Linked DNA regions of Homo sapiens: all the other regions are linked to region 1. The links come from fine-mapping of genetic effects on gene expression. A gene starts in region 1. Each other region holds a variant in brackets. All regions are shown on one strand. Distances are between the middles of the regions.

Region 1 (4,214 bases):
AATTTGTCCAGCATGGAGGAAGCAGCAGGGCTCAGCCATGCCTTTTTCTTTTTCTTTTCTTTTTTTTTTTTTTGAGACGGAGTTTCGCTCTTGTTCCAGGCTGGAGTACAATGGGGTGATCTCGGCTCACTGCAACCTCTGCTCCCGGGTTCAAGCAATTCTCCTGCCTCAGCCTCCCGAGTAGCTGGGACTACAGACACCCGCCACCAGGCCCAGCTGATTTTTTAGATTTTTAGTAGAGACGGGGTTTCACCATGTTAGCCAGGATGGTTTCGATCTCCTGACCTCAGGTGATAGCCCGCCTCTGCCTCCCACAGTGCTGGGATTACAGGCGTGAGCCACCGCGCCCGGCTGGCTGAGCCGTACCTTTAGTGGTTTCCACTTCTTCTAGTAACACCTGGGAGATATAGTGGATGCTCCTCAGGTATTCCGTGTATGCCTCCTGTGTCCAGGAAAGAGAAAGAGTGGGGTCAGGCCAGTGGAGGGAAGTGACTCCATTATTCCGGCCAGGTGCCCTTGTGGGATAAGCAAGGAACACCACCACCTGCTTATCTCTGAGATACACCCAGAGACATTGAGCCTGCGGTGGTTAGCTGCAGCCGGAACACGGTTTTCTGCGCAGGGCACAGGCAGCATCGCTGCTCTCCAGACTTGGAAAAGACATCAGGACCTGAGAGAGAGAGAGAGCCAGGGACGAGCTGGACCTCATTTTCTCCTCTGACTGCCTTTCTCTCCAGCACAGGAACTGATATTCTCATTCAGTGGGCCTGGGGAAGTGACCTCAGCAGTTTGCTGTCATTTTTCATTCTATGCAATGTTTCCTTCTTGTGCAACTCAAGGGTGATTCATTCAGTGGCTTAAAAAAATACTTTTCTGAGAGGATAAAGGGAGTGATACTGGAAGTTTTCAAATCACTTCCCGGTTTAAGTTCCGAGAAATCCCTTTCCCAGAACCTGCGAGTTACGTATTTCCAGTGCACACAGGAGCCTAGAACTGTTACCTTTCAAGGCTGTGTGACCCCTCTGACAAGGCACAGGTCATTGGAACCACAGAATGGTGGTTTGTTTTGTTTTGTTGAGACAGAGTCTCACTCTGTCGCCCAGGCTGGAGTGCAGTGGCAGGATCTCGAGTCACTGCAACCTCCGCCTCCTGGGTTCAAGTGATTCTCATCCCTCAGCCTCCCAAGGAGCTAGGATTACAGGTGTGCACCGCCACACCCAGCTAATTTTTGTATTTTTAGTAGAGACGGGGTTTCACCACGTTGGCCAGGCTGGTCTCAAACTCCTCACCTCAGGTGATCCACCGCCTGGGCCTCCCAAAGTGTCAGGATTACAGGCGTGAACCACAGCGCCCAGCAATATGCTATGTTTTTTTGTTTTATCCCTAGCTGTTAAGTTTCCTATCTTTAAGTCTATGCCTCAGAGAGAAAGACGAAATATAATCCAGGCAGGATTTCTGACTTGCGGGGGCACCTGCTGCCCTAAAAACCAACTTGGGGAAAGCAGCAGATTCAGGAACGAGGCTTCTCCTAGGCACAGGCAGGCTCCTTCCCTCCTTGGGCAGCCGGGTGTGGCTGGGCCAGCTTCTCTACCTGGTCGCCAACCTTAGATTCGGCCCCATCTCAGGAACGGGCCACACCCCTCCGGCCTGCTTTTCCTTCCTAAGACGACTGCAAACAGCATCACAAATGAGCAGGTATGTGGCCTTCTCTGCATGCCGTCCCCTGTGGCAACCGGATTAAATCTACCATCTCTGCCCAGAAAAATGCACGAACGCACGGACCTGCCCGTCACTCGGATTTTGGAAGGTGGCCTGGCGGACCCTCCTGCTACATCTCCTCTACAGGTGGAGCCCAGGCTGTGATGCACCGGCTCAGCGAGCGGAGTGGAAAGCCAAGGTCCGCAGGATCTGAGCTGTCCAAGGTCACTGCACGCCCGGCTGCGCCCCGCCCCCGTCCTCGCCCGGGAACCGCGGCCCGGGATCCCGGCTGGCGCCCGCTCCCAAGTCTCCAGCCCGAGCCGGCCCCGTCCTCGCCCTCCCCGGGCGGGGGTCCCTCCAGGGGCCACCCTCAGCGGCCAAGCCCCGCCCCCGCCCCGCCTCACCCGGGGCCGGTTGCCGGTGTCCAGCTCGATGGCCCCGTTGGCAAGCTTCATGGCGCTCTGCAGCGGCTTCACCGTGCCGTCCCCGGCCGCAGCGGCCATGGCGCCGAGCGGGGGAGGCGGCGGCGGTAGCCGAGGGGCTGGACGGGCGACCGGAGGCCCGGAACGCAGCCGGCGCTGGTGCTGGAGCCGCCCGAGCAGCGGACCGCAGGAAGGGACGCGGCCGCACTTCCGGCGACGGGCCCCCTCCGCGCGTACTGCGGGCCCCACGGGTGTTAGTGGCGGGGGCGGCAGAGTCCGGGTGGGTTGTCGCGACGGAGCCGGGCCTCTTCGCCGTCTTGAGACGGGGCTGGCGAGAAGGGCCCCTCACGGAGTTGCCATGGGCGTCTAACCGCGGCAGCCAGGCCCCTCTCTACGTGAGACCCCGGCCCCCCTCCCCTTTCTGCAGCCCGCCCGCCACCTGCGCGCCGCGTGGCCTCCGCCGGCGCCTGCCCGCCCCGCGCCTCCGTCTCCCACGGTAAGAGGCGGTGAGGGCCGCGTCGCCTCTCCCTGGAGGACTCGTCGTGAGGTGTCGGCGAGCCCCTCCGCCCACCGCCCCGCCCCAGGCCAGCGCTCCATTGGCGACAGAGGCGGGCACGGCCGCCCTCGGGCCCGAGAGGGGAGCGGTACGAGCGGGGGCGCTGGCACCGCGGGTGGAACCTCGGCCGGCGGGGTCCCGCCCCTGGCCCCTGGCCCGCCCCGCCCGCCTCGCTTTGCTTCTCGCTCCGCCCCTCCCCCGCCCCGCCTCGCTTCCAGCGCGCCGAGCGGAGCCTAACGCCGGGTCCTCTAGGAACCTCGGGCCGGGCAGCACCCGCGGGATTCTGCTGGCGTCCTCCGCTGCCATGAAGCGGGACCGGCTGGGCCGCTTCCTGTCTCCTGGGTCGTCCCGACAGTGCGGGGCCTCGGACGGCGGCGGCGGCGTCAGCCGGACTCGGGGCCGCCCTTCCCTTAGCGGTGGGCCGAGGGTGGACGGGGCGACGGCGCGGCGCGCCTGGGGCCCGGTGGGGTCCTGCGGGGACGCGGGCGAGGACGGCGCGGACGAGGCAGGTGGGTCCGCGGCCCGGGCGTGGCGGGTTGGGGTCGCGGCAGGGGTTGCTCGTGGGAGGAGCCGCACTGACGCCCGGAAGCCGGCGCGGCCTCTCCTCCACCCGGCCAAGGGCGTAGCGGACTCGGGGCTGCGTCGGGATAGGCGCTGGGCGGCCGGCTCGGTTTTCCTCGCGCTCCGTGACGCCGGCGTCGCCGGCCCGGCCTCCCCGGCCGCGGGCTCGGCCAGAAGGGACCCGGCGTGAGGAGCGCTGTCACCGCGGGCAGGTCGCCCTGGGGTGCCCGCGCGTGGGAATCGCCCTCCCCTGCTTCGTGCCCTCGCGGAGCCGGAAAGGAGGCGGCACCTGCAATTGGCAGACAGGAAACCGCGGCGTTTCCTGGAGGGCGCAGCGCCTGCCCCGGGTCTCGCGGTCGCTGGGAGGAGGGTGCAGTTCCAGGTTTCACTCTTGAAGTTGCTTCGCTGGAGAGGCCTTAGAGGCCTTTGAAATTTGAAAGATTTCTTGGACCAGCGGCCACATCCCCCACAGGGCGGCTTGTCCCGCCGAGAGCCGCGCGCCCGAGCCGCTTGCTGTGTCCGGGAGCCGCGCGAAGGGCGCTGCAGGCGCTGCCCTCGGACCTGGAGTCCGGGACGCCCTGTGCTCAGGAGCCTCCTTTGCCAGCTGCTAACACTTCCTGCCGCTCTGTGCAGGAGCAGGCCGGGCTCTCGCCATGGGTCACTGTCGCCTCTGCCACGGGAAGTTTTCCTCGAGAAGCCTGCGCAGCATCTCCGAGAGGGCGCCTGGAGCGAGCATGGAGAGGCCATCCGCAGAGGAGCGCGTGCTCGTACGGGACTTCCAGCGCCTGCTTGGTGTGGCTGTCCGCCAGGACCCCACCTTGTCTCCGTTTGTCTGCAAGAGCTGCCACGCCCAGTTCTACCAGTGCCACAGCCTTCTCAAGTCCTTCCTGCAGAGGGTCAACGCCTCCCCGGCTGGTCGCCGGAAGCCTTGTGCAAAGTACGCCCTAGTCTGTTCAGAGCACGTTCAGGCTGTCAGT
Region 2 (4,214 bases), 240 kb after region 1:
GTTAGGGTGGAGTGAATGTGACTTTAGGGCAGAATGTAAAGGCATCACGTGACTTTGTTTTTTGTTTTTGTTTGTTTTTGGTTTGGTTTTGTTTTTGAGACGGAGTCTCACTCAATCGCCCAGGCTGGAGTGCAGTGGTGCAATCTCAGCTCACTGCAAGCTCCACCTCCCGGGTTCACACCGTTCTCCTGCCTCAGCCTCCTGAGTAGCTGGGACTACAGGTGCCCGCCACCACGCCCGGCTAATTTTTTGTATTTTTTTTAGTAGAGACGGGGTTTCACCGTGTTAGCCAGGATGGTCTCTATCTCCTGATCTTGTGTTCCGTCCACCTCGGCCTCCCAAAGTGCTGGGATTACAGGCGTGAGCCACCACGCCCAGCCGGCGTCACGTGACTTTTAAGCAAAAACTTGAAGGTCAGGGAGCAAGCCAAGACAATATGTCTGGAGGAATGTTCTGGTGGGGGCAGCCCTGTGGTTGATGTGTCCAGTGCCTTAAGGAGGAGCAGAGAGCCAGGTGTGGCTGCAGCTTTGTGTCTGGAGGACTGTTCCGGTGGGGACAGTGCTGTGGTTGATATAAGGAGGAGCAGAGAGCCAGGTGTGGCTGCAGCTCTGTGTCTGGAGGAATGTTCCGGTGGGGGCAGCCCTGTGGTTGATATAAGGAGGAGCAGAGAGCCAGGTGGGGCTGCAGTTCTGTTTCTGGGGGAGGTGGGCTCAGAGGTGGCTGGGGCTTTTCTTTAAGTGCAGTGGGGGCCACAAGTGGGTGCTGGACATACTTGAGCTTTAATAGGTTACTGTGGCTGCTGACTGAGCTTGGACTGAGAGGGAGGTGACTGAGAAGAGGGGGATGACTCTGATTGGGCTGGGGTAGGTGGTGGGAGTGAGGAGTCGCTAAGGGCAGTCCAGCTGAAGGTTTGGAAACGGAATGTAACAGATTAGAAAATAGTCTGACTGAGTGCGGTGGCTCACGCCTGTAATCCTAGGGTTTTCCAGTGCAAAGATGGGAGGATCGCTTGGGCCCTGGAGTCTGAGGCTGCAGTGAGCTCTGATTGCACGACTACACTCCAGCCTGGGCAAAAGAGCAAGACCCTGTCTCTTAAAAAGTACAAAAACAACAACAACAAAAACAGAGAGAGAGAAACCCTTCAGGATAACTCATGATATTGAAAGGGTGGAGCTGCTGAAACCGAGATGGGGAAGCTGAGGGGCTTGGGGTCGGGGGTGGGAGTTTCGTTTGTTACATTTGGACAGGTTGGGTCTGGTGGTGGGAGTGGCAGGTTGGCCCCAAACATGTGAGTCAAGTTGGAGGACAAGGTCTGGGCCACCTTTGGGGCAAGGCTCAGGGGCCAGGGAGAAAAGGATCTTTGAGGTTCTAAGGCCTCCCTTGGTGCCAGGAGGTCTTAGATTGATCTGGGCCTCAGAGTGGAACCCACGGGGAGGGGGCAAGCCAGCTGAGGGTGGCCTGGGCTGCAGGCGCACCCTTCCCGCTTTTGAGAAGTGTGTGTCCCTCCACCCTAGGGTGTTATTACCGCTGTCACAGTAAGTGCTTGAACCTCATCTCCAAGCCCTGTGTGAGCTCCAAAGTCAGCCACCAAGCTGAATACGAACTGAACATCTGCCCTGAGACAGGGCTGGACAGCCAGGATTACCGCTGTGCCGAGTGCCGGGCGCCCATCTCTCTGCGTGAGTGGTGGCAGGGAGAGAAGAGGGTGAGGGAGCTGTTCCTGGCGGGGAGCCGGGTGCACAGGTGTGTAAGGGCACGTAAGTCAGACAGTTGAGTGAGGCCCTGGGGCAGTGCCTGCTTGATATCTTTAGGAAGTGACAAGGGTCTGTTGCTGCCATTGTTTCATTTCTCACTGAAGCAGACTGAGGTTCCAGCCGTTCCGTGACTCACCCAGGTCACTGAGGAGCACCTGGAGGGCTGGGACCTGGCCTCCGCCTCCCCGTGTGAAAGCCTCATAGATGAGGACTAGGGAGAAGTCACACAGCACAGAAAGCCTCATAGACGGGGTCTAGG[G/A]AGAGTACACGGTTGTCGCCCAGTTGTGCACATGTGCGCGTCAGCTCTTCTTTCTAGAGAGTTGCTGGTGTTAATTCATGAAGTCCCTGCCTCGGTCCTACAGTGAGGCCCTGTTTATATCCCATTTTACTGATAAGAGAACAGGTCAGTGAGACGCTGGGACCACCTGAGGTCTTCCGGCTGAGGATAGGACATGTTCCCATGTCTCCCCGAGGGCTGTGGTCCATGGGAGGACAGACCATGAGGCTGGAAAGCTGTGTGGGGTTTTTGTGAGGCAGGGACACTCAGGGCCCCTCTGACCCTGCAGGGGGTGTGCCCAGTGAGGCCAGGCAGTGCGACTACACCGGCCAGTACTACTGCAGCCACTGCCACTGGAACGACCTGGCTGTGATCCCTGCACGCGTTGTACACAACTGGGACTTTGAGCCTCGAAAGGTGGGGGTTGGAAGGTGGGGGCATCCCCCTGGGGAGGGAGAGCAGGAAGGGGGTTGGGGTGTGGAGCCGGTGTACCCCTGGTTGGGTGTTGCCCGCTGCACGGGCCCTGGGTGGGTGTGAGAGGTGTCACCCGGCCGTGCCTGGCAGGTTTCTCGCTGCAGCATGCGCTACCTGGCGCTGATGGTGTCTCGGCCCGTACTCAGGCTCCGGGAGATCAACCCTCTGCTGTTCAGCTACGTGGAGGAGCTGGTGGAGATTCGCGTGAGGCTGGGGCCATGGAAGTGGGGGGCGGGGGCGCTGTGTCAGGTGGGCCCTAGGGCCGGGCCAGTACCCTCTTCTCCTCTGGGCCACGGGAGGTTCTGAGCAGAGGAGGGAGGCCACCTGCTTAGGGTGAGCCAGGCGCCGCGGCTGCCCTTTTGGTTGAAGGTGCTGGAGCGGTGTCCCGTAGTGATCTGATGCCAGGTGTGAACACAATATTAAATTTTGTAATAGCCACGTTAAAAAAGTAAAAAGAGCTGGGCACGGTGCTCACACCTGTAATCCCAGCACTTGGGAGGCTGAGGTGGGTGGATCACTTGAGGTCGGGAGTTTGAGACCAGCCTGACCAACATGGTGAAACCCCATCTCTACTAAAAATACAAAATTGGCCGGGCATGGTGGTGTGTGCCTGTATCCCAGCTACTCGGGAGGCTGAGGCAGGAGAATCACTTGAACCCGGGAGGCTGAGGTTGCTGTGAGCCGAGATCGCGTCACTGCACTCCAGCCTGGGCAACAAGAGCGAAACTCTGTCTCAAAAAAAAGTAAAAAGAAACAAGTGAAGTTAATGTTAATAGTATATTTTATTTAGCCCAATATATCCAAAATGTTATTTCAACATGAAATCAATGTACATTTTTGAGATATTTGCTTTCTTTTTCTTTTTTGTGCCACGTCTTTGGCTCCAGCATGTAGCCTCTGCTAAGTCTCACTGCACAGCGGCCACTTTGAGGTGCTCTGTGGCTGTGCAGGGCTGGTGGCCACTCTCTTAGCCAGCGGTGAGGGAGGAGGTAGGGCGGGAGCCGAGGGCAGACGGGAGCTGCAGTCCTGGCAGGACATGATGGCGTCTCACGCCAGGTAGTGAAAGGAGGCAGGTCCCATTTTACCCGGGAGGAGACTGTGGCAGCACGTTGAGTTGCCAAGGCCAGGGCTGGGGAGGCAGCTGGGATTTCTCCGGAAGTTTGGCTTGGTCCTGAGGCTGCTGGTTCCTAGACAGTTGTGTGCCTGTGGGGCCGGGTGAGGGCAGAGGGAAGGGAGGGTTTTCTGGACCACGGTAAGTGAGCCTCACGGTCCTGCCCAGCCTGGGAGCTGTGATTTTGGGTTTTGGTGAAGCACTCAGATCTCGGCCCTTCGTGGGGAACCAACCCCTCCTGGCCCTGCCGTGGCCCCGGGTGTGCGGCCCACACAGGGGCCGCCCTGTGTCCTGGCTGAGGAGGCCTGCCTGCTCCCGCCTTGTTTGCAGAAGCTGCGCCAGGACATCCTGCTCATGAAGCCGTACTTCATCACCTGCAGGGAGGCCATGGAGGCTCGTCTGCTGCTGCAGGTCAGACTGCCAGCAGGACTGGCCCCCGATGGGAAGCGCAGCCAGGGTGGTGAGGCACCTCAGGCTCAGGTTTTTTCCGGACAGCTTGTGCGTGGAGTGCCTTTAGCAGAGGGTCGCCTCACCACGGTCCCAAGGAACAAAGCAAACAGGTGTTCTGCCTACAAAAGAGTTCTCCAGTCAGTTCCGT
Region 3 (4,000 bases), 29 kb after region 1:
ACTCACGCTGGGCAGTGTCTAAAATGGAAGATAACTGGGCTGCCTGGCAGGCAACAGCGGTAGTCAGATCACCACAAGGCTTTTTTTACACATGAAGCATGTTGAGATTAGAAATAAATGAACCGAGGTGCGTGGCACACAAAATGGTCTGTACGATTCCATGTGTCAAAATCATTAAAACTTGAGGGAAACTAAAGGAACTCAAACTTGGGAGAAGGCAACCTACAGCTGGTTTGGTGATGTGCTGGTCGCCGTCCTGGCTGTGGGTGGGGTCCTCCCTCACATGGCATTCCAGACACTGTTCCCTATTTGACTTTGAACCCTTTCCTCAGTAATTCACACGGTCAGTACACGCATGGAGGCTGCAAGAGCTGCTGTTAGCGCCACAGGCACTGACAGATCGGACGGACACGTGCACACGGGGCACCTACCATCTCAGAGTTGACCAAGTGGAAGAACTGCTCGCATCTGGCAGTGATGGGCTGTTCTGCCTGGAAGCTGCTGCCGCAGAGGACAGACGAAGGCAGGCGGAGGAGGATCCTGGAAAGAAGGGGCTGTATTGGTGGCGACAGCACAGCGTACACTCTGCTCCTTCCCAAGGGCTCAGACTCTCAGAGCAGCAACCACCACCCTGAAACCCAGGGCCACTGTTGGAACCAGAGCCTTGGCCTGTGTCCCTCTGTCCCATCCAAAGCCTGCACTCTGAGCCCACCTCCCCTATACTGTGTTTGGCCCACTGCATTCAAAATGTGTTACCAAACAAACAACTTTTAACAGTTACATAATAACCAACAACTTCTGACAGTTACACGATAACCAAGTGGATGACGCACCAGTCTGTCTAGTGAAGCAATTCCCTATGACTGTAAAATTAAATGACTCCACGCTGCTTCTTATAAATGCAGCCGCCGTGGGCATTTCTGAACACTTTTCCCTACTTTCACAAGAGCTCCTTCTGCGACGTCCCTCCACGTCTGAGCAGGAAGGTTTTGTTGTTGTTGTTGAGACAGAGTCTCGCTCTGTTGCCCAGGCTGGTGTGCAATGGCGTGATCTCGGCTCACTGAAACCTCTGCCTCCCAGGTTCACACCACTCTCCTGCCTCAGTCTCCCGAGTAGCTGGGATTACAGGTGCCCGCCACCACACCTAGCTAAATTTTTTTGTATTTTTTTTGTATTTTTAGTAGACATGGCGTTTCGCCATGTTGGTCAGGCTGGTCTCAAACTCCTGACCTCAGGTGATCCACTCACCTCAGCCTCCCAAAATGCTAGGATTACAGGCATGAACCACCTCGCTTGGCTGGAAGGTTTTAATCAAAAGTACTTTCAACCCTCCAGATCCTCTTCTCCGTGGCATGTGCCACAGAAATGGACAGGCTTGGGGTGGGGACACACAGACAAGTAAGTAACGGGAAACAAACTCACTACAAAGAACCTCTAGGACCGTCATGAGATGCTGCCCTGCCCAGGTGGTGCTGCCCTGCCCAGGTGGTAGTAGGTGTTACCGTTTGTACATTAGCAGCTCCCTCTGTCTCTGAAGGCTGGCAGCCACGCTCCACCCGCTTGTCAGAGCCTGGAGCCGTCTGCGGAAAATCTCAAAGAGGAAGTGCTCCTGGGAAGGGGTGTGGCCGAGAGGCACTATGAGGTCTTGCTGCAGCTCCAGGTCAGCTACCATCTCCTGAAAAAGAGCAGTATGCTGGCACAGGAAGGCCTCGGGGCTCACTGCCCAGCCAGTCGGGGACCCAGACGTCAGGGGTCAGGGAGAGGTCTCCACAGTGGACAGGGCAAGAAGGAACAAGTGGGGCAAGCTATTTCAATTGGAAATCACTTTGAAATTGCAAATATAGAACAGTGCAGGCCGGGTGCTGTGGCTCACGTCTGTAATGCCAGCACTTTGGGAGGCCGAGGCAGGCAGATTCCTTGAGCCCAGGAGTTACAGTACTACTTATCAACTACTTATCAATTAAGAAAAAACAGCTGGGCGTGGTGGCTCATGCCTGTAATCCCAGCACTTTGGGAGGCCAAGGCAGGAGGATCACGAGGTCAGGAGATGGAGACCATCCTGGCTAACATGGTGAAACCCTGTCGCTACTAAAAAATACAAAAAAATTAGCTGGGCATGGTGGCGGGTGCCTGTAGTCCCAGCGACTCAGGCGGCTGAGGCAGGAGAATGGCGTGAACCCGGGAGGTGGAGCTTGCAGTGAGCCCAGATCGCACCACTGCACTTCAGACTGGGCAACAGAGTGAGACTCCGTCTCAAAAA[A/C]AAACAAACAAAAAAAAACAGCCAGGTATGGTGGCTCACGCCTGTAATCCCAGAACTTTGGGAGGCCAAGACAGATGGATTACCTGAGGTCAGGAGTCCAAGACCAGCCTGGCCAACAAAATTAGCCATACAAAAATTAGCTGGGTGTGGTGGCAGGCGCCTGTAATCCCAGCTAATCAGGAGGCAGAGGCAGGAGAATAGTTTGAACCCGGGAGGTAGAGGCTGCAGTGAGCCAAGATCCCGCCACTGCACTCCAGAGCAAGACTCTGTCTCAAAAACAAACAGACAAAACAAAACAAAACAACAACAAAAAAAAACAGCAGGAGGACACTCATGTGCCCTTCACCCAGATTAACCTCTGGCTAACATTTTACCCCACACATCATTTTTGCCTCACAAGTCTTTTGTTGTTGTTGTTGTTGTTAGGACAGTCTCAGTCCGGTTGCCCAGGCTGGAGTGCGGCAGTGCAGTCTTGGCTTATGGCAGCCTTGACTCTCGAGCTCAGCTGATTCTCCTAAGTCAGCTTCCTGAGTAGCTGGGACTATAGGTACACACCACCATGCTTGACTAGTGTTTTGTATTTTTAGTAGAGATGGGGTTTCACCATGTTGGCCAAACTGGTCTTGAGCCCCTGACCTCAAGTGATCTAGCCACCTCAGCCTCCCAAAGTGCTGGGATTACAGGCATAAGCCACCGTGCCTGGCCGGCTGTATTTTTTAAAGAAGAATAAAGATCAGGTGCAGTGGCTCACGCCTGTAATCCAACAATTTTGGAGACCGAGATGGGTGGTTCACTTGGGCCCAGGAGTTCGAGACAAGCCTGGGCAACATGGCAAAACTCCGTCTCTACAAAAAATCAGCTGGGTGTGGTGGCGCACACAGGTGCACGCTGTCAGGATTGCTTGAGCCCAGGAAGTCAAGGCTGCAGAGAGATATGATCGCACCACTGTACTCTAGCCTGGGTGACAGAGCAAGACCCTGTCCCAATAATAATAATAATTATGATTACAATTAAGAGGAAAAAGCAGATGGTCTCACTGAGAAGGAGCCAGGTGGGTCTAGGGAAAGCATCTGGCTAAGGAGTTGGGAGGCCCCAGAGCTGGCGGAGGGAGAGACAGGGGCCTGGCACAGAAGACGCACGGGTGGCCAGCACCAGTAAATGCCTGTTGACTGACAGTGAACCCACACAGGTACATGCTGCCTACCTGTATAGACTTCAGGTGATCCACCAGCCTCGGACTCCCAAAGTACTGGGATTACAAGCCTGAGCCAACAATAAATATCTTTTTTTTTTTTTTGAGACGGAGTCTCACTCTGTCGCCCGCCCAGGCTGGAGTGCAGTGGCACAATCTCGGCTCACTGCAAGCTCCGCCTCCTGGGTTCATGCCATTCTCCTGCCTCAGCCTCCCGAGTAGGTGGGGCTACAGGTGCCCGCCACCACGCCCGGCTAAATTTTTGTATTTTTAGTAGAGACGGGGTCTCATCGTGTTAGCCAGCATGGTCTCGATCTCCTGACTGTGTGATCCGCCTGCCTCGGCCTCCCAAAGTTCTGGGATTACAGGCGTGAGCCACCGCGCCTGGCAATAAATATCTTAATAGCACGCGGCTTAAATGAAGTGAATGCACTGAGTTGTGGCACCCTCAAACTCACCTGCAATCTGGAAATAATATCCTCATTTCCTGTGCGGCCACCAAAGACCAAATCAGAATTTTCTGAGTGGTCATAACTCCTTGAGCTGAA
Region 4 (4,214 bases), 160 kb after region 1:
CCGCCTTGGCCTCCCAAAGTGCTGGAATTGCAGCTCCCAGTACTTTGGGAGGTGGGCAGATCACCTGAGGTCAGGAGTTCGAGAGCAGCCTGGCCAACATGGTGAAACCCCATCTCTACTAAGAATACAAAAATTGGGCCAGGCGTGGTGGCACATGCCTGTATTCCCAGCACTTTGGGAGGCCGACGTGGGCGGATCATGAGGTCAGGAGATCCAGACCATCCTGGCTAACACGGTGAAACCCCGCCTCTACTAAAGAAGTACAAAAAAATTAGCCGGGTGTGGCGGCGGGAGCCTATAGTCCCAGCTACTCAGGAGGCTGAGGCAGGAGAATGGCGTGAACCCAGGAGGCGGAGCTTGCAGTGAGCTGAGATCGTGCCACTGCACTCCAGCCTGGGCAACAGAGCGAGACTCCATCTAAAAAAAAAAAAAAAAAAAAAAAAATTGGCCAGGCATGGTGGTGGGTGCCTGTAATCCCAGCTACTTGGGAGGCTGAGGCAGGAGAATTGCTTGAACCCAGGAGGTGGAGGTTGCAATGAACTGAGATTGTGCCACCAGGCTCCAGCCCGGGCAATACAGCGAGACTCTGTCTCAAAAAAATAAATAAATAAATAAATAAATAAATCGTAATAATAATTATGGATTTGTCTATTTCTACTTTCAACCCTGTCAGTTTTTGCTGTGTGTGGGTGTGTGTGTGTTTTGGTTTTTTGGAGACAGAGTCTCGCTCTATTGCCCAGGCTGGAGTTCAATGTCACAATTATAACTCACTGTAATCTTGAACTCCTGGGCTCAAACCATCCTCCCACCTCAGCCTCCCAAGTAGGTGGAACTATAAGTGGGTGTCACCACACCTGGCTAATTTTTTCAATTTTTTTTGAAAGCCAGTGTGCTGGGATTATAGATGTGAGCTACCATGCCTGGCCTAGAATCTTTTCTGAACTGATTGGTAATGAAAATAGCAACCTATCAAAATTTGTGGGATGCAACTGAAACGATGATTAGAACTTTATCATCGTAAATTTTAAATTAGAAAAGTGTTTAAAAATCTAGAAATTTACCTGAAACTTCTACCTTAAACTAGAAAAAGAGCAAATTAAACTCAAAATGTGTCGAAGGAAGAAACTAATCAAAGAGGGGAATGCACAGAATAGAGTATGGACACGATGGAGAGAATCGGTGAGACCGAAACTTGGTTCTCTCAAAAGACGAGTTGGCAAAAACTCTAGATTGACTGATGGAGGGAAAAAGGGAAGGTCCAGGTACGTTACCATTTTCAGGGATGGGAGAGGAGTGTTCACAGGTACAGATGGTGCAGATAGTAACGGGCGATAAGGAACTTCTTGCTAATAAATTTTCCAGATTAGACAAATGGGCAAGTTCCTTTAAAGATAAAACTTATCTAAATTGACATGTGAAGAAATAAAAAAATCTGAGCCCTTTTATCTATTAAAGATACTGAATTTTTTAAAGTATAAAACATTCCAGGCTAGGGTTGGTGGCTGACACCTGTAATCCCATCACTTTGGGAGGTCAAGGCAGATCCATCACTTGAGCTCAGGTGTGTGAGACCAGCCTGGGCAATGTGGCAAAACCCCATCTCTACAAACAATACAAAAAAACTGTCCAAGTATAGTGGCACTCACCTGTGGTCACAGCTACTCGGGAGGCTGAGACGGGAGGATGGCTTGAACCCAGGAGGTCGAGGCTGCAGTGAGGTGAGATGACGCCACCGTACTCCAGCCTGGGTGACAAAGTGAGACCCTGTCTCAAAAAAAAAAAAAAGACAACCTCAGGCTGGGTGCGGTGGCTCATGCCGGTAATCCCAGCACTGTGGGAGGCCAAGGCGGGTGGACCACCTGAGGTCAGGAGTTCGAGACCAGCCTGGCCGACATGGTGAAACTCCGTCTCTATTAAAAATCACC[A/AT]TTTTTTTTTTTTTTTTTTTTTTTTAGGAAAAATGGACATTTTCCTCTCCCCCTAAAAAAAGATAAAACTCCTTCCTGGTTATTAACTGAAATGCTGATCGAGCTTTATCCTAAAGAAGATCAGTCGTGGACAAGAACCTTGTGAAATGTTCCCCATTTGAGACCCTAAAACTAATGAAAATCACAGCTTTTGGGTAGGTAATAAGGTGTTTTGTTTTGTTTTTTGAGACGGAGTCTTGCGCTGTCGCCCAGGCTGGAGTGCAGTGGCACCATCTCAGCTCACTGCAAGCTCTGCCTCCTGGATTCACTCCATTGTCCAGCCTCAGCCTCCTGAGTAGCTGGGACTACAGGCGCCCACCACCACGCCCGGCAAGTTTTTTTGTATTTTTAGTAGAGACGGGGTTTCACCGTGTTAGCGAGGATGGTCTTGATCTCCTGACCTCGCCATCTGCCCACCTCTGCCTCCCAAAGTGCTGGGATTACAGGCGTGAGCCACCGCGCCCAGCCAGTAATAAGGTTTGTCTGACGGTGATTGACAGCATTTTAGAGCTGATGCATGGCAGTAGAGATTGCAGCAAATCATGTGTCATCACCAAAACTTCACTGAAGAAGCAAAACTAGGCCTGTCACCCGTGCTGTCTGTGTACACAGATGGGCTTCAGAGCCTGTCACACGTGTTGTCCGTGTACACAGATGGGCTTCGGGGCCTGTCATACGTGCTGTTCGTGTACACAGACGGGCTCCTGGGCCTATCACCCGTGCTGTCCGTGTACACAGATGGGCTTCGGGGCCTGTCACACGTGTTGTCCGTGTGCACAGATGGGCTTCGGGGCCTGTCACACGTGTTGTCCGTGTACACAGACGGGCTTCAGAGCCTGTCACACGTGCTGTTCGTGTACACAGACGGGCTCCTGGGCCTGTCACACGTGCTGTCCGTGTACACAGATGGGCTTCGGAGCCTGTCACACGTGTTGTCCGTGTACACAGATGGGCTTCGGGGCCTGTCACACGTGTTGTCCGTGTACACAGATGGGCTTCGGGGCCTGTCACACGTGTTGTCCGTGTGCACAGATGGGCTTCGGGGCCTGTCACACGTGTTGTCCGTGTGCACAGATGGGCTTCGGGGCCTGTCACACGTGTTGTCCGTGTGCACAGATGGGCTTCGGGGCCTGTCACACGTGTTGTCCGTGTGCACAGATGGGCTTCGGGGCCTGTCACACGTGTTGTCCGTGTGCACAGATGGGCTTCGGGGCCTGTCACACGTGTTGTCCGTGTGCACAGATGGGCTTCGGGGCCTGTCACACGTGTTGTCCGTGTGCACAGATGGGCTTCGGGGCCTGTCACACGTGTTGTCCGTGTGCACAGATGGGCTTCGGGGCCTGTCACACGTGTTGTCCGTGTGCACAGATGGGCTTCGGGGCCTGTCACACGTGTTGTCCGTGTGCACAGATGGGCTTCGGAGCCTGTCACACGTGTTGTCCGTGTACACAGACAGGCTCCTGGGCCTATCATGTGTGCTGTCTTTGTAAACAGTCAGGATCCCAGGACTATCACGCGTGCTGTCCATGTACACAGGCAGGCTCCTGAGCCCATCACACGTGCTGTCCGTGTACACAGATGGGCTTCAGAGCCTGTCACACGTGTTGTCCATGTACACAGACAGGCTCCCGGGCCTATCATGTGTGCTGTCTGTGTACACAGGCAGGCTCCTGAGCCCATCACGCGTGCTGTCCGTGTACACAGGCTCCTTTCCATTGAAGTTCAGCTTGGCATAGAGCTTTTTATGAATTCGATTTGTCAAACACCTCAAAATAAGAATTTTTTTTCTTAGGAAGTCAGCATGAGTTAATAAAAGTAAATTGGGTGTTGGCCGGGCGCGGTGGCTCACGCCTGTAATCCCAGCACTTTGGGAGTCTGAGGCGGGCAGATCACCTGAGGTCAGGAGTTCGAGACCAGCCTGGCCAACATGATGAAACCCCATCTGTACTAAAAATACAAAAATTAGCCTGGCATGGCGGCACATGCCTGTAGTCCCAGTTACTCGGGAGGCTGAGGCAGGAGAATCACTTGAATCCGGGAGGCGGAGGTTGCAGTGAGCCAAGATCATGCGATTGCTCTCCAGCCTGGGCAACAGAGCAAGACTCCATCTCAAAAAAAGAAAAAAAAAAAAGTAAATTGGGTGTTGTGGCGTGTGCCTGTAGTCCCAGCTCCTGGGGAGGCTGAGGCAGGAGGATCCCTTGACCACAGGAATTTGAGGCCAGCCTGGGCAACACAGTGAGACCCTATCTC

Which allele goes with the higher level. Positions count from the first base shown, and alleles are read on the strand shown. Sizes are in standard deviations (SD) of each study's normalised expression. Not every link is listed here.
With allele A in place of AT in region 4, the expression in monocytes of the gene that starts at base 2,238 in region 1 is lower (large effect, 1.0 SD a copy in Schmiedel 2018).

The links.
Region 2: its variant is fine-mapped to the expression of VPS9D1 in naive CD8 T cells (Schmiedel 2018, PIP 0.95).
Region 3: its variant is fine-mapped to the expression of VPS9D1 in whole blood (TOPMed, PIP above 0.99).
Region 4: its variant is fine-mapped to the expression of VPS9D1 in monocytes (Schmiedel 2018, PIP 0.95).

Annotation. Positions count from the first base shown.
Region 1 is chr16:89,718,661-89,722,874 of GRCh38, forward strand. It overlaps VPS9D1 (VPS9 domain containing 1), which reads right to left and starts at 2,238. Exons shown (of 15, transcript NM_004913.3): 1 at 2,103-2,238; 2 at 367-442. The coding sequence starts at 2,201. It overlaps ZNF276 (zinc finger protein 276), which reads left to right and starts at 2,877. Exons shown (of 11, transcript NM_001113525.2): 1 at 2,877-3,185; 2 at 3,871-4,174. The coding sequence starts at 2,981. RefSeq lists an enhancer at 450-619, a cis regulatory region at 535 and silencers at 1,845-2,964, 3,045-3,504.
Region 2 is chr16:89,959,417-89,963,630 of GRCh38, forward strand. DEF8 (differentially expressed in FDCP 8 homolog) reads left to right here. Exons shown (of 13, transcript NM_001242818.2): 7 at 1,515-1,679; 8 at 2,321-2,448; 9 at 2,596-2,709; 10 at 3,947-4,027. Among named protein-coding and RNA genes, the nearest start is that of SNORA119, 8.1 kb to the left of the region's middle. The variant G/A (reference allele first, on the strand shown) is at 2,014.
Region 3 is chr16:89,748,228-89,752,227 of GRCh38, forward strand. It overlaps FANCA (FA complementation group A), which reads right to left. Exons shown (of 43, transcript NM_000135.4): 31 at 3,911-3,995; 32 at 1,503-1,675; 33 at 432-540. Among named protein-coding and RNA genes, the nearest start is that of ZNF276, 29 kb to the left of the region's middle. The variant A/C (reference allele first, on the strand shown) is at 2,261.
Region 4 is chr16:89,876,509-89,880,722 of GRCh38, forward strand. The region is part of intron 1 of TCF25 (TCF25 ribosome quality control complex subunit); the gene reads left to right. Among named protein-coding and RNA genes, the nearest start is that of TCF25, 5.0 kb to the left of the region's middle. RefSeq lists an enhancer at 2,997-3,666. The variant A/AT (reference allele first, on the strand shown) is at 1,926.